Linked DNA regions of Homo sapiens: region 2 is linked to region 1. The links come from fine-mapping of genetic effects on gene expression. A gene starts in region 1. The other region holds a variant in brackets. All regions are shown on one strand. Distances are from middle to middle. Region 1 holds the start of RPP14 (ribonuclease P/MRP subunit p14). Region 2 holds the start of ACOX2 (acyl-CoA oxidase 2).

Region 1 (5,000 bases):
CATGCACCTGTAGTCCCAGCTACTTGGGAGGCTGGGGTGGGAGGATCGGTTGAGCCTGGGAGGTTGAGGCTACAGTGACCCATGATCACATTATTGTACTACAGTCTGGGTGACAGTGAGACACTGTCCAAAAACGATTTTTTAATATAAAATTTAGTTGAAAAACAAAAGTTTTTTTTTGTTTTTTGTTTTGTTTTGTTTGTTGGCAGAGTCTCGCTCTGTCATCTCGGCTAGAGTGCAGTGGCGTGATCTCAGCTTACTGCAACCTCTGCCTCCTGGGTTCAAGCAATTCTCCTGCCTCAGCCTCCCGAGTAGCTGGGATTACAGGTGCGCACCATCACACCCAGCTAATTTTTGTATTTTTAGTAGAGACAGGGTTTCGCCATGTTGGCCAGGCTGGTCTTGAACTCCTGACCTCAGGTGTTCTGCCCACCTCGGCCTCCTAAAGTGCTGGATTACAGGCCTGAGCCACAACACCCAGCCAAAAAACAAGTTTTTTGTCTTTATCATTCAAAGGCATCTCTTTTATCCTCCGCTCTGAATTAATAAGACAGCATGAGAGAATTCAGGCAACTGGGAAGACACTTCATTTTCAGGGTTTGTTGCAGCAGGGTGAAAATTATCTATTGTTCCTTGAAGTTCAAAATACAGGAATTGCTCTGGTTTTCCTGGGCCACCTGGCAGGATACATTTGCCAGGCAGCTGGCTTACAGGAACCCTCTCCCATTACTGAGGGTTTCCTGGGGTGCCAGACACTTTATACCATCAACTCTTTTTCCCTCAACTCTGTGAGGTAGATGCTAATAATCTCTCCATGTGACAGATGAGGGAGGTAGGTAAGTGGCAGAGGATGCATTTGAAGCAAGTTCTGGCAGCTTCTGAAATCAAGCTTTTTTGAGAAAGATAATACTTGGGTCTGTGGGGTCTGTGTTTGCTTTCTCCACCTCTTCCCACATCTGGAACAAGCCCTGTCTCCTCTGAAGGAAGAAGAAAGTAGGAACCACAGAACTGGAGAGCATGGCCAAGGTTGAGGACTGAAGCTTCTGGAAACAACACAGTGGGATTTTGAGAAAATAATTGAGGAAGGAGATCCCCGCTGACTCAACTGTCCTGTGCAAGGCAACCCTTTGCCCCCCAACCCAAGCAAAACCAGCACATCCATTTATGAACAAATGCCTTCAGTAAATAGATGTTGGGTCACCATTGGGTACCAGGAACTGGGATGCAGTGGTGAGAAACACAGACAAGGCCCCATCCTCATGGGGGTTACACTAAAGTTTCCCTTCCCACTGCAGCCCCTCAATTGGTGGTAATACAGTGCAGTATGGAGAGCACTGGCTAGAATCAGACAGCCCATGCCACTGCTTATAACTGTGATCTTGAGCAAATAACTTAGCCTCTCTGTGCCTCAGTTTCTTTTCCTGTTGCCAGGCTAGAGTGCAGTGGTGTGATCTCGGCTTACTGCAACCTCTACCTCCCAGGTTCAAGCAATTCTCCTGCTTCAGCCTCCCGAGTAACTGGGATTACAGGTGTGCACCACCGTGCCCAGCTAATTTTTGTATTTTCAGTAGAGATGGGGGTCTCACCATGCTGGCCAGGCTGGTCTCGAATTCCTGGCCTCAAGTGATCTGCCCGCCTCAGCCTCCCAAAGTGCTGGAATTACAGGCATGAGCCACTGCGCCTGGCCTGTGCCTCAGTTTCTACCTCTAAAATGGTGATGATCATAGTAATAGCCATCTCAGGATTGTGTGAGGGTTCCATGAGATGACATATGTAAAATATTTTGCATAGTGCCTAGCACAAAGTAAGTCTTTACTTTGTGGGTCTTTCCAGGACGGCCTAGATAGAACACCTACTATGTGCTGGGAGTCACAAGGGACACTGAGAGTGGGTCCTATCTTTGGGGAGTGCTTGACATAGGAGATCTTGAGGAGAGGAGATGCTAGATATAATTTTGTAGGCTGGGCGCGGTGGCTCACGTCTGTAATCCCAACACTTTGGGAGGCGAGGTGGGTGGATTGCCTGAAGTCAGGAGTTTGAGACCTGCTTGGCTAACATAGTGAAACCCTGTCTCTACTAAAAATACAAAAATTAGGCCAGGCGCGGTGGCTCACGCCTGTAATCCCAACACTTTGGGAGGCCGAGGTGGACAGATCACGAGGTCAAGAGATTGAGACCATGCTGGCCAACATGGTGAAACCTCGTCTCGACTAAAAATACAAAAATTAGCTGGGCATGGTGGTGCATGCCTGTAGTCCCAGCTACTTGGGAGGCTGAGGCAGAAGAATCACTTGAAGGGAGGCGGAGGGTGCAGTGAGCCAAGATGGCGCCACTGCACTCCAGCCTGGGCGACAGAGCGAGACTCCATCTCAATAAATAAATTATAATATAATGAAAAAAATGTGTAGAATGACTCGGGCGCAGTTGCTCACGTCTGTAATCCCAGCACTTTGGGAGGCCAAGGTGGGCAGATCACTTGAGGCGAGGAGTTCGAGACCAGCCTGGCCAACATGGTGAAACCCCGTCTCTACTAAAAATACAAAAATTAGCCAGGCATGGTGGAGCATACCTGTAGTCCTAGCTACTCAGGAGGCTGAGGTGGGAGAATCGCTTGAGCCCTGGAGGCGGAGGTAGCAGTAAGCCAGATCGCGCCAGTGCACTCCAGCCTGGGCGACAGAGTGAAACTGTCTCAAAAAAACAACGAAAAAATTGTTGAATGAATGAATGAATGCATGAAGAAATGGATAACTATGAAGCACCGTCCAAGGCGGAAAAAACCCGCCCTAAACCGCACCCCAAGCAAATTGCACACACGGCTTTCCCGGAGTGGACACCAGAGGGCGCTGAGCTCGGCCGCTCTCAGCTCCGGATCAGGATTCGCGCCTGGGTCCTTAGGACGACGCCGCGTGGTGACGTCATATCCGCCTGGGCGTCACGCTTCGTGGGGCGGGACGAGGAGAAGCCAAACGTAAAGACACCAGGAGTTTCTCGGGCCCAGCTGTGGCTGCTGCCGGGGAGCCCCAAGCCTTGGCGGGTCCTTGCGGCGAATAGGAGTCTGGTCAGGCGTCAGGCTAGTCCGACGAAGAGTGGGTAGGTGGAAGCCTTCCAAAGAGCGGCGGTTGTCTGGGAGCCGTCTCAGTTGGCCGCGACCCGGGCGCATGCGCGGGGCGGGCGGTGCGCCTTGGGTAGCTTGTCCTCTCCGACCCCGGGCGCTGAGGGCCTCTGTACGGCGCCGCGTAGGGTCTCGGCCGCAGAACGTGGCCGAGAGGCCCGGGCGAGACTTCGGGACCGTGTCCTGAGCGCTCTCCATGCGCCCGGCGCGAGGTGAGCGCTAAATAGTGGTTGTTGAAAAATATTGAAAGCCACCCAAGTGCTCAGCAGTAAGGATATTGAGCTTTTTAAAGTGATTGATTTAGTCCAAAAATTGTACGTCGCACGCCCACTGTGCACGACCCAGTGTTTTAGGGCCTTGGGAAACAGCAGTGAACAAGATAGCAAGATTCTTGGAGTGGACTTTTGTTGGGGTGGGGAGGGGAAGTACAGATAAAGATAAACGAGTTACATAATTGTCATAGAAAAAGGCAAATGCTACGAAGAAGAAAGCAGGGACGGGGCATGGGGGTGGGGTGCGGTGTTAGCCGAGAAGGGCACTGGGCCAACCCGATTGAGATTTGAGCTAAGCCAGGAAGGGGGCAAGGGTGTGAGTCCGGTGGCTGCCTGGAGGAAGATCTTTCCCAGCATGGGGAAAAGCTAGAGCCGAGGCCCAGCGGTGGGAGCGAGACTGGCGCGTGAGAAAGAGCTAGGCTAGGCCTGTGTGGTGGCGGGGATTGAGCGGAGGGAGAATGGCAGGACATGAAGTCAGAGGTGTAGAGGGAGCAGTCCTGCAGGTGAGGCAGAGCCTTGCAGGCTGCTCTAAGGACTTTGGCCTTACTCTGGATAAAACGGGAACCATAGCAAGATTTTGAGCAGAGGAATGATGTAGCTTGAGTAGATGTTAATAGACTCACTGGCCGCCGTAGGGATGGAGAAGCGGGGGAGTAGGGAGAATCAGATTTATTACTAATAGGTCAGATTAGGAGCATCCCTGCGCAGCCACTAAAAAAGGCTGACTCTAGGCCGGGCGCGGTGGCTCATGCCTGTAATCCCAGCACTTTGAGGGGGCCGAGGTCGGCGGATCACTTGACGCCAGGAGTTCGAGACCAGCCTGGGCCAACATGGCGAAACCCCATTTGTACTAAAAATACAAAAGTTAGCTGGGCGTGATGACGTACGCCTGTAATCCCAGCTACTCAGGAGACTGAGGAGCGAGAATTGCTTCGACCCAAAGCACTCCAGCCTGGGCGACAGAGTGAGACTCCATCTCAAAACAAACAACAAGACTGACTTTAAAGATGACGATGACAGTAACTTCGTGAGCCCACATCTGTGGAGAGCCTGGTGAATATATTTAATACCAGTCTGTACAAAATAATTTCCCAGGTATCCTCTCCTTTAATGTCAGAACAGCCTGCAGAGGGCAGTGCTGTCATTTGTAAGTCTTTTTTTTTTTTTTTAATTGCAAAAAATACGTGACATAAAATTTATCGTAAGTAGCATTGAGTACATTCACAACGCTGTGCAGCCATCACCACTGTCCATCTCGTGAATGTTGTGTAAGTCTTCGTTTTACTGGCATCTAAGCCCTGGGTCTAATTTCACTCCCCTATTTTAGGCAGCCAGCTCCATCAAGGCAGTAACACTAAAAAACATTTATGTGCCAAGCAATGAAAGAAACAGATGAGGTTTCTTGTTCTCCCTGCCCTTCTAGTTAGGGGAGACTCTAGTGACTGGGAAAGAAGCATCAGGTAACTATTTCCGCTGTCCTGAAACCAAGGATTCTTTTGAATATATAGGCCTATACCACTATCACTTTTCTCTCATTTGAATACCTACTTTGTGTCATAGTATTACAGTATTTTTTGTTTGTTTGTTTTGGAGACAGGGTCATGCTCTGTCACCCA
Region 2 (5,516 bases), 230 kb after region 1:
GTGTCCTTGGAGGTGAAATTCTCAAGTTTGAGGAAGGGGAAATCCCTCGTTGGGGCTTGGTAAATCACCAAGCCTCAGGGACGCTTGATGTGGCCGCCACCTGGTGGCCACAGCAGGAGGTACGGCGTTGGTGGCCTGATGGGGGCTGGTGATGGGCGTGAGCCTTCCTGGGTGTCTGCAGCAGGGGCAGGCAGGCGTATTCTTTCCACTGTGTCATCACAGGGCCTGTGCTCTGGCTGGTGGCAAGCTCTGCCACTAACTCGGGAGATGAGAGGAACCGGGGTTGTGAGGAGTGCCTAGGACTAGACCAAGTGTGTGTGTTTGTGCGTGTGTGTGTGAGTGAGGCCTTGTCTCTCATGGATCGATTGTCTCCTCTACTTCAAAGTTCCTTTGGGGACTTTCCAGCCACTCACTAATGAAATGTTTAATATCCCACCTATTTTACAGAGTAAGAACCTGAGGCTCAGGTTGGTGAACTGACTTGCCCAAGGTCAGCAGCCTAGAACAGAAAATCAATCTGAGGTCTGTTGGACCTCAAAGCCAGTGCTACTCTGCCCTCCAACATTCTTCTACTTGGGGAGAGTTAAGGAAGGGGGGTGGATGTATACTCACAGTCTCCAGGCCACCATTTGGTGGCAGTCAGCGTGGGGCTGTGTATCACAAACTCCTGGGTGGCTGCGTCATAGGTGGCTTCAGTCTCCAGGCCCTGAAGATATGTCCCTTAGGATCAAGGAGAGGTGTTAGACATTGGCCTGAGGTGGGGTTCTTACCTGTGAAGCTGCTTCTAGGTGGGTCTGAACTCTTAGGCATCAGCGCAGTATGGAGTGGGGCCCAGCTCCCAGCTGTACTTGCAGGCAGTTCTCCCCTTTCATCTGTGGGCTGTGTGTGGGACACACAGTCCCCTATAGCCAGTCCATGAGAAGGGGTGGCTGCTGATGTTTCCAGAAGGAATGACTTGCCCCACTGGGAGCTCATACAATACGTGCAAATTAGAAGGTGGCACCCCTTCCTCAGGACCCTTGACTGCCAGCTGCTGGAATGTTTTCTTATTAAACATATGTCCCTCGGAGCATATGAACCTATGACTACCTAGATGTAAATGGGCCCTCTGGAGTTTTGCAGTGCACAACCTAAACACCACACGCAGCAGTCCTAGCTCACCATGTCCCAACTCTGTCTGTGCATACGTTGCGATGATCTGGATGTTTTTGCAGAGTGGGTCCCATTTGGCAATCTGCTCCTCTGAGCCCAGGCTCCTGAGGGCTCTCACGAAGACTCTGTGTATATTTAAGGCCACGTCTCCAGAAAGGGCTCTGTTGGGGAGAGATGCTGTAGTTGAGTAGCTTATTGGAGACAGGGGCCCAGGTACCCCCTGCCTGAGCAGAGTACAGGAGATAAAGGGCACCTAGCATCCTGGTTTCCCAACAAGTCTTCCCTTTGTTGGGGGAAATGGCTCATGGGGCTAGGGGGTTTCCAGGTGATCCCAGGTAGATCCCTCTCTAGTGGGGCTGCTCGAGGAGTGAGCACCTGTAAGCGTAGCCTAATTCACGACCATCTTCTAACCAACCCAGGCGCCGAGCTATCAACCGGATGTGGAATGCCCTCCGCATGGCAGCCTTATAACGCTCATTCTGGGTCATGAAATAATTGTCCTTACAGCTAAACTCCGGGTAACTGTGGATGATGCTCTCTGCAGAGGACAGAGAACAGAGGGCTTAGGGACCTGGGTGAGGTTTCTGGCACCTTGAAATCTTCTCACCCACTTGCTTCATGGATCTGGAAAGGAAGTCAGACATTATTGTTATTTTACAGATGACAAAACTGAGGACCAAGGTGGGAAAGTGAATTGCCCAAGGTTACAAAGCTATGCAGTGGCAGAATTTTAGGACCAGAATCCAGGTCTTCTGCTGCCTAGGACTCTTCTATCCCCTAGGTGGGCTCAGGCAATATTGACATGTGAAGATTGTCTTTACAGTTCGAAGGAATGAATCTCTAACAGTGGAATTTCAAGGGCAAAGTTTGTTATTTGGAAGCAGAACTGCTAATGAAGGACTCTTCTTACAAGAGAAGCATGGGGCATAAAACAGATGTCCCATTCCCCAGCTTCCCCTTACCAACTTTCCTGCGGAGTGCAGTGTTCTGGGCACCTCCATCAAGGATGTTGGTGAGCCGTTCCACGTCAAAGGACTGCATATACCTCTCGCTCTCTATGTCGGGGTGCATTTGCCTGCTCCAGGTATCCCCCAATGACACTCGGTGCACTGGGCTGCCCATCCTATCCTGGATCTGTCTGGTGACTATGGAGAGACACTTCCAACCCGGCTGCTCCGAGGGTCTGCTCTCAGCATTGGTCAGTGCAAAGAACCTGTGTGCAAGAGGAACTGCCTAGGGCTGGGTGTCAGCCAGGGCTGGTTGGTAGAAGAAAGACATCCCTAAGTACCTGAATGCCACTCCACCTCCCCACTCCCCCTGTGGACACTGGCTGTGGACCAGGCACTGTGTGCATGGTAGGCATGGTATGCAGCCATTGCTTGGTACATGTTTGTTCAATACTTGTTAGCCAAAATTGGACAGGGCCTGACCCCAAAGA[T/C]TGGGCTCTATCCACTGCAGTTTGAGTTACATGAATTGCCTAGGGAAATCTTCACAAAAAAGTCAGTGAAGCTTACACCTGAAGAAAATAATCCTGGAGAGGTTGAGTGGCCCCTAGCCACACAGCTGGAGATGGCCAGGAGTTGGATGGGGTCTGACCACAAAGCACATGACTTGTCCATACTACAGCTCCACTGTGGAGGATTGCTGGGGGCACCTTGGTCTCATTAAACTGCTCATAAGTTCTAGGATCACTCAGCTCCATTTCTATGAGCCCTGCAGGTATATTGTGGAACTGAAGGGAGGAAGCCTTCTTCCTGCCTGTGAAGTGTTCCCCTGGAGCCCCTGAGTGTCTTTCATACCCAGGTTGGACCCTGTCTCCTTCATGGCAAGTGCTTGGCCTCTGAGAAGCCCCTATTCCTCCACAGTGAGGCAACCATGAGGTGCAGTCCATCCTATTTCACAAGTCTCTTGAGTCCATCTGCTCCTTGCTATCTCTTTGGCTAGCATCCAGGCCACTGTTATCTCTTACTTGGCCTCAGTGTTCCTCTTATTTGTTCTCCCAGCTGCCAGGTGAACTCTTGAACTGCAAATCACATTGTTTTCCTCTCCTGCTTGGAATCTGCTCCTTGGGGCCCACTGTTTGTGGAATGGAGTCCTTGCTGTGTCTACCCAACCCTACTCCACTCACCTCTCTCCTATGTCAACTTACTGCCCTCATCCCTGGCCTCCACTCATTCTCTTCCTACCCTTTGCCCCTGCTGTTCTCTCTGAACAAAGTTCAGCTCCCTCGTTCCCTGGGTGCTCTAGGGTTAGGGACAAGTTCTTATTTGCTTACATGTTCCTCCCACAAGGCCTGGGAGGCCAGCTCTGCATTTCCTAGCTTGCAGCAGGTATGTTGTAAATCTCTCCGGCAGGCTGCCATGCTTTTGATCCCCTTCCTTCCTGACCTCAACCTGACAGATGCACTGCTGTTATTACCATTTTATGGAGAGGATGTGGGCCTTGGAAAGGGAGGAGACTTTATAAGGGTCATGCAACCACATGTAGCAAATGATTCATATGAGGCTTTCAAACCAATACCCCCAGCAGGGCTGTGGGGGTGCTGGCAAGGGGCCCCATCCTCTGCCCCCCGGAGTCCTGCAAGTGCCCCTAGTGCGGCTCCTCTCGTCCTGCCTTACCTCTTTTCCTTGCTCTGCTGCCACTGCCTCCTTGCTGTTCTGAATGCTCCAGGCCTCCCTGCCACTGCCAGCATTTGCTAGGGCATCTCCATCTGCCCAGAACACCCTTTCTTCAAATGTCACTAGGGCTTTTTGCATTGAACCTCATTTAACCTTAAAGAGGCCACCCTCTTTAAAACCCCAAGCCCCCTCCCCCGGCATTCCCTGTCCTCCTCACTCTGCTCTCCTTTTTCTCTTTTCACTTATCCCCTTCTGACATTTGAGATCATTTACTCATTTCATATGTTTTTGTTTACTTCCATCTCCCTGCTACTAACACAGAAACTGCAAGAGGGCCGGGATCTTTGTCACTGTCATGCCGTGACCCTAACACTTAGTGCAGGGCCTGATTTGCAGGAGGTGCCCAGTGAAGAAAGCCTTGCTCAGGGTCTCTCGGAGCTGCGGACAGGGTCATCATGGGGGCAGCCCTCTCCTCTGGGGTCTCCCAGTCCCTCCCTGCCCAAAAACCTGGCTCACCTGGCTCCCCTCTGTCCTGTGTCCGCACTGTAGGCCGGGCTGGCCTCTCCCCGGCTGTAGGCCGCAGCCTCTGGCAGGCTTGTGGTCCTGCCCTTCTCTCCTCCCACATAGGGGCTGGAACACAGAAGCTGAGAGAAACTGCTTGGCCAGCTCTCAAGCCCTTGTCTGCTCTCAAGCCCTTGTCTGCTCTCAAGCCCTTGTCTGCTCTCAAGCCCTTGTCTGGGCTTATGGAGCTCCTCTCCTTCCTCCCTCTCTTCCTGCATGGGTGTGACCTTTGTGCCTGTCGCTGGGGCTGCCCTGGGAGGACTTCTGGGAGGTTGGAGCCCTTACATCTCAAAGCCAGGGATTCCTTTGACACTACTTGTACCAAAAAGCTGTGTACCCCAGCAGTGTTTCCAAAGTGATATCCTGGTCTTCCCTGATCTTTCACTGTGTGCCCTTCAGGCACTCAAGCTGTTAATATCACACGAGCTTAATAGGCTCCCCTGAGATGGTCCTCATGTGAAAGGATTGCTCTGTAAGGTGTACGTTTTTCCTCTCTCCCCATGTTTCTGCTCTAAAATATGGCTTGTCTTATGCTTAGCATCCCCTGACATTCCCTGGAAAAATATTTGTGAAGCATCCATCTGTAGTGTGTGGGATCCAGATGAGAGCTGGGTCTTAGTGAGAGGAATGAGAGGCTTAGAGGTTCCCTCCCTGCATAACCACCTTGGAAAGTCAGATGCGGCTCCCCATTTTGCAGGTAAGGAAACAGGCTCAGGGAGGGATGTCACTTTGTTTGGGTTTGCACAATAAGTAGATTACGTAACACATTTGTGTAAGACTGGGAAAGAAATCAAGGGGCCAGTAGGAGATCAAGGCTCCTGTTCTGGCAGGACTTCTGAGCTATGTTGACTCTGAGCAGGTGTACTCCTTTCTGGGCCTTGGCCTCCCCTGTAATGCAAGGTATTTGCTCAGTAAGGAGCCTCACAGCACCCCATCATATCCCCAAGGTAGTGTCTAGCTTGTGTCTGTAGGAAGAGGCAGGACCTGTGGCCCAAGCTTTGCAACTTATCACCTAGTAGGTCCTTCTGGAGCTGTGGGGCTCAGACTCCTGGCAGTCCTCATTGCTGTGGGCAGTGGTTTCAGGGAAGGTGGTCTTGGCCCCACTGTTTGGAGGTGAAAGTTCTTACTTACACCTGGACTCATCTCCGCCAAGGATTTATGCTATCACTGACCATGGGCAATGAC

What was found.
Region 2: its variant is fine-mapped to the expression of RPP14 in prefrontal cortex (GTEx, PIP above 0.99).

The regions. Positions count from the first base shown.
Region 1 is chr3:58,303,328-58,308,327 of GRCh38, forward strand. RPP14 (ribonuclease P/MRP subunit p14) reads left to right here and starts at 2,918. Exons shown (of 6, transcript NM_007042.6): 1 at 2,918-3,090. It overlaps HTD2 (hydroxyacyl-thioester dehydratase type 2), which reads left to right and starts at 3,193. Exons shown (of 5, transcript NM_001348712.2): 1 at 3,193-3,324. RefSeq lists enhancers at 2,704-2,783, 2,974-3,233, 3,354-3,483.
Region 2 is chr3:58,532,833-58,538,348 of GRCh38, forward strand. ACOX2 (acyl-CoA oxidase 2) reads right to left here and starts at 4,358. Exons shown (of 15, transcript NM_003500.4): 1 at 4,287-4,358; 2 at 2,115-2,365; 3 at 1,528-1,690; 4 at 1,162-1,313; 5 at 613-720. The coding sequence starts at 2,274. LOC107984079 (a long non-coding RNA gene) reads left to right here and starts at 2,540. Exons shown (of 3, transcript XR_001740724.2): 1 at 2,540-3,482. The variant T/C (reference allele first, on the strand shown) is at 2,591.